Linked DNA regions of Homo sapiens: region 1 is linked to region 2. Evidence: fine-mapped QTL for protein levels in blood plasma. A gene starts in region 2. The other region holds a variant in brackets. All regions are shown on one strand. Distances are from middle to middle.

Region 1 (2,919 bases), 120 kb before region 2:
CATCATCATTTTCCCTATAAATCCTATAAGAGTTTTAAAGTTGCGTTTACACACATTAATTCACAACTACTAGTGAGGCAGGTAGGTAAGGCTGATAATAGTAGCCCCATTTTACAGAAGATACTGAGCCTCAGAGAGTCTAAACCACTAGCTTAAGGACAGGAAGTGACAGGACTGAGCTAAACACCTTGTCCATTACCCTTCCCCATCCCATGCTATTCCTCATGCATGATTTATTCCCCCAAGCCCCATCTTCTTCATTCCAATGCACCCTATATGTGTCAATCAGTGCAAACCTCACCTTGACTATACTATAGTGGACATGTGCCTAAGACTGGCTTCACGCACCGTTTCATCTCATCCCTGGTCCCAAGCACAAAGGACATGGCCCATAGTAGGTTCTCAGTGAATATCTGATAAAGAAAGGCATGCCAATGCTCAGTGCAGATGCTGATGCCTCTAACGAGCTGAGACACACAGAAAAACATTACCACTGTTACAGTACCTTGACAGACTGGGGCTGGTGCTGTCCACTGTCCCAAGTTATCACACCGAACTATATCGGCTCCTCTCAGCATGAAACCTTCAGCACAGCGGAAGCTACAGTTGGTGTCATACTGAAACGCTCTCAAGGATGGAGAGCAATCCATGCTTCCGTGGACAGGACTCTCCAGCGGCTCACACGAAATAGCTAAGTGGAAAAGGTATCTTCTAAAGCCAGGTAATGGAAGGGCCGGGTTCTTCCTCAGAAAAAATTCCTAGATGCTATATCTTTCCTGTCCACATTTTCAGTGTGTTCAGAACCCTAAAACCTCCATTTTCCAAAAGAGAGACTGCCTGGAACACCTTCCCATGCCCCTCTTGGCCTGACTCACTCTCACCTGCCCTTCAGGTCTCAGCTTAGACTTCCCTTTCCTTAGGAAGCCCTCCCTTCCCACCTTAACTAAGGGTAGAAGCCCCTGCAATGTGCTCCCACAGCCTCTGTTCTTGCGCTGTTCATACATGATTGTCATTCTTCCCCATTATACCGTGGTCTCCTCGAAGTTGGGCTCAGTCATTCATAGTTTTATTCTGGAGCTGAGCAGAGTGTTTTGTACATTGAAAGTGCTCATTAAATATTGACATTATCTGTGAAATTGAACCTGAAAAGAGTATATACAGGAAAATGCTGGACTTATAGGGAAAAAAAAAAAAGCTGGACTAGCATAGCTTATTGTTGACACTGTTACCTAGTCCTGTAAAATGATCCTGACCGGGCTTTGTCTCTAGAACACAGGATGTCATCCTAATCAGACTTCAGTTGCCAAGTGAGTGCAGCCAAAGTGAATTCCTGAGCACAATTAAGCCCTGAGTGACCTCAGTTCTGATAAAGATTGGTTTCCTCATGCTCTTCCTTGATAAAGCATTT[C/T]ATTTCCAGGCTATTTCTGAAACTTTTCAAAGTGTAAAGACTACCTCTTTGCTCTGGGCTTTGACCTCTGGTTTTTACAGACTCAGAGCATTTAAGAACCAAAAATCCGGCTGAGCACAATGGCTCACACCTATAATCCCAGCACTTTGAGAGGCTGATGTGAGTGAATCACTTGAGGTCGGGAGTTTGAGACCAGCCTGGCCAAAGTGGTGAAACCCTAGTCTCTATTAAAAATACAAAAAGTTGCCTGTAATCCTAGCTATTCGGGAGGCTGAGGCAGGAGAATCGTTTGAACCTGGGAGGCAGAGGTTGCAGTGAGCTGAGATCGTGCCACTGCACTTCAGCCTGGGCGACAGAGTGAGACTCTGTCTCAAAACAAACAAACAAACAAACAAACAAACAAACAAACAAAAACACCAAAATCCTCTAGTGTTTCTCTCTTCTCTCTTATGTTTTAGGCAAGAAAAGTGAGGTTCAGAAGTGTTAAGTGACTTCTCTAAAGTCTCATAGCTAGATAGTAGCAGGGTTGGGCTTGTCATCCAGGTCTGGGAATTCACTAATCTATCGTAAATTTCCTATTCTCCCATTACCACTGTCCGCCTTATAAACTGAGGGTGTGAGGCAATTGCAGAGAATTCATTTTGGCGGAATTATGTAATTGCCTGGGATTGCATCACACACTTTTTCGATGCAGTGTTCCTTCCTTTGCTTCTTTGTCAAAGGCTACCCTCAAAGACTACATGGTGAACCACTCTCTTTAGCCACCTTAGCCGCTGCTCCCAACTCCCTCTCAAGTATAGGACATGGTCCTATACCTCGGATATGTCAGTAGAGCAGAAGCTCTATGCTAGGTACTTTATACATGCTATTTAATTGTATACTTTTTATGTACTTAATCCTCACAAGCACCTTGCAATTCTTAGCTCCATTTCACAGATGAGAAAACCATGGTTCCTGGAGGTTGAAGAGCTTGCTCTAGTGCAAGAACTTAGAAGAGATCACCCCGACACTGAGAGCCCTTGGCCTCTCTACCATGCCATGATTCCTTCTTGGACAGAATGGAGGTTGCTAATGAAAAATCCTACCCTCACAGGTTGGCAAGGGTGCAGACCAGTGTCCAGAGTCAATGCAGCGGAGCATGTCCAAGCCCCTCACTCTGTAGCCGGGCTGGCACTCAAATTTACAGCTGGAGCCATAGGCAAAAGCAGTGAGCGGATGAACACAGTCCATGGTTCCTTCACTGGGGGCTTCCAGGTGCTGACACTGCACAGCTGGAGAGAATAACCAAGGATAAAGAGAAAGATACTGAGAAAGGAGAAAAGCCACACAGAGAGCAATGGTGGAACCACCTCTGAAATGCAGGTGGAGCTAGCAAGATGTAAAGGTCAAGAGACCCTAATGATGTTTGTCCAGACTTGGATTACCAGTTCCCAGGGTGATCTGAGTCTGTTAAAAACAAAGATTCCTCCAAGCTGTATTCTTAATGTCCTCTATTCCCTATACTTCTATAA
Region 2 (2,911 bases):
ATTTAGGTCAAAGAGAAAAGACAGGTTTTAGCTACAATACAATAAGAGCTTGTACAGATGTGGTTTTTATTAGAAGGCCTTTTGCATATCTGTGTTTCATGGCCCGAGGCTGCCCTTATAAAGCGTTCTGCACTTACCGTTTTGGGAAGCAGTTGTTCAAACACAGGATCTCTCAGGTGGGTATCACTGCTGCCTCTGTCTCAGGTCAGTATAGGAGTTTTGATGTGAAGTCAGCCAAGAACAGCTGAACACTACTTCGGCTGAGGCCCTTTTATAGGAGGGATTGCTTCCTGTGAATAATAGGAGGATATTGTCCACATCCAGTAAAGAGGAAATCCCCAATGGCATCCAAAAACTTTCCCGGGAATATCCACGATGCTTAAAATTACAATGATGTCAGAAACTCTGTCTCTTGAAGCTACTTCACCTTTGTCCATGCCTTTATATCGTATATGCAATTTTATTAATATGACAAAAATGCATGATTTTTAATTATAATAACATAAAGTCTATGTCTTTAAAAAGTTGTAAAACTTTGCTTGTTAGTAGTGTCTCTCATGTAGTTGTGGTAGTAATTAGAATTTCAGAAACAGAAGGAAACCAAGAATAGGTTTGTCATCCATAGTCTACTACCTTCAATTTCTCATTCATAGCTGTGGATAACCAATCACTACTCATTTTTTCTTCCTTTTTCACCTGCCAATTCAACATATTTAACATGCACTGTCTCACAGAGGAATGACTCACAAGGTAGATATTAATCTTCAGATTTTGCACGGCAGTTATGCCTAAATTAAAATATTATCTAAAAATAATATCTAACACTCAAATGGTTAAAATAATGCCTTATTTTAAAAAAAGAAAAATGGGAAATAGATATTTACATCTGGGAAAGTTTCATGGTTTGTTCAGTGAAAAAAATAAAAAGGAGGCCAGGCACAGTGGCTCACGCCTGTAATCCCACCACTTTGGGAGGCCGAGGCAGGCGGATCACCTGAGGCCGGGAGTTCAAGACCAGCCTGACCAACATGGAGAAACGCCATCTCTACTAAAAATACAAAATTAGCTGGGCATGGTGGCGCATGCCTGTAATCCCAGCTACTCGGGAGGCTGAGGCAGGAGAATCGCTTGAACCCGGGAAGTGGAGGTTGCAGTGAGCCAAGATCACGCCAGTGCACTCCAGCCTGGGAAACGAGTGAAACTCTGTCTTAAAAAAAAAAAAAAAAAAAGAAAAGAAAAGAAAAAAAATAAAACGGAAAACTATATATATATATTTAATTGGTCAAAATTTTGTTTAAAATTTTTGAAATGTTAATGTGCAAAGAATAAAAATTCTTCCACAATGTTAACAGTGACTAACTCTGGATGGCAGGATTTGGGATAATTTTTATATCCTTCATTATTATTTTCAGGATTTTAAAGTTTTTTTCAATTTCCCTTTTTTTCACCTTTATAGTAACAAGAATACAGTTTAAAGAAACTTGTCTCTAGGCCAGGCATGATGGCTCATGCCTGTAATCCCAGCACTTTGGGAGGCTGAGGTGGGTGGATCACCTGAGGTCAGGAGTTCCAGACCAGCGTGGCCAATATGGTGAAACCCTGTCTCTACTAAAAATACAAAAATTAGCCGGGGTGTAGTGGCGCATGCCTGTAATCCCAGCTACTGGGGAGCCTGATGCAAGAGAATCGCTTGAACCCAGGAGGCAGAGGTTGCAGTGAGCTGAAATCACACCATTGCACTCCAGCCTGGGCGACAGAGCAAGACTCCATCTCAAAAAAAAAGAAAAAAAGAAAAAGAAAAGAAAAGAAATTTGTTTCCAAATGCAACAGAAGGAGATGTATGTGGTATCCTATATTCCTGCTCTTCATTTTGACATTTCTTCTGGGTGATTGTATACATTCCCCATCTCTGCATCTTACCCTATCTAAATGATGGTAACAGTAAATGGGGATCATTTTAATTTCCATATTCTGTAGGTTTTCAGAGCTCAAGTCAAGCTAATATTCTATATCTACAGCCTTTCAAAATAGGAGGTCTATCTAAAAATGTACTGTCAGCAGACCTGAACGAGTAGTGGTAAAAGCCTCGTTTTTCTCTTTACTTGTTAGCACTGGTCTTTCTGTGTTCATAAAGATGTCAAGACCCAAAAAAAAAACAAGAAAAGAGAAGAAAAATTCCAAAAAAGACAACTGATTAGAAAAAAATAACTTAATTAACGAATTTAATTCAACCCCTATCAAAAAGCATAGAATTTATTCCCTCCACCTTACCACTCTCTTACATGATCCAGATACTGACATTATTCCAATTCTTTATCCCACTTTACTTAGCTCAATGTGGTTGTTGCTTCAATAAATTCAGAAGAGTAATCACTCATATAGTGTTTATTTAGATTTTAGGGCAGAATGTCAAGTTGGGTTAATACATTATCTGTATGTATTTTATTTTTAATAAAGTATGAATACATAATCTGCTATTTTTAAAAAGCATGGTCAAATGTATAGAGTAGCCAAATCTTAAAAAACAATTTATCTTCGATATCAATAAAGTACCTAATAATTATATTGCTAATAGAAATTAGTCGTTAACATCCCTAGATAACTAACTTTATTATTGCGAATTTTTCATAACTAAGTTTATAGTTTATCTCTTCCCCTTTTTAAAATTAGTTCAAAGATATCTAAAAATAGCCCCAGTGGTGATGAAGTTTCTATTTTACTTACATATATATGTCCTGGACCCCCAATTATAATCTCTAACATTTATTGAGTGCTTACTATGTGCCAGGCCATATTCTGAGCATTTTGTATGTTCACCTATTGATTATTCAATCCGTACAACAGCCTATGAAATAGGTACTCCTATTATCCCCATTTTACAGATGAGGAAATTGAGAATCTGGGGATTTTA

Which allele goes with the higher level. Positions count from the first base shown, and alleles are read on the strand shown. Strength reflects both the effect of a copy and how common the allele is.
In carriers of allele C in region 1, the plasma level of the protein whose gene starts at base 246 in region 2 tends to be higher than with T alone (weak association).

The links. PIP is the posterior inclusion probability: the model's chance that the variant is causal. Protein levels are from antibody-based Olink assays in UK Biobank. Linkage for the fine-mapping came from a reference panel and not from the study's own genotypes, which makes the PIPs less certain.
Region 1: its variant is fine-mapped to the plasma level of the SELE protein (UK Biobank, PIP above 0.99).

What each region holds. Positions count from the first base shown.
Region 1 is chr1:169,608,999-169,611,917 of GRCh38, forward strand. SELP (selectin P) reads right to left here. Exons shown (of 17, transcript NM_003005.4): 7 at 2,494-2,679; 8 at 506-691. Among named protein-coding and RNA genes, the nearest start is that of SELP, 20 kb to the right of the region's middle. The variant C/T (reference allele first, on the strand shown) is at 1,409.
Region 2 is chr1:169,733,834-169,736,744 of GRCh38, forward strand. SELE (selectin E) reads right to left here and starts at 246. Exons shown (of 14, transcript NM_000450.2): 1 at 138-246.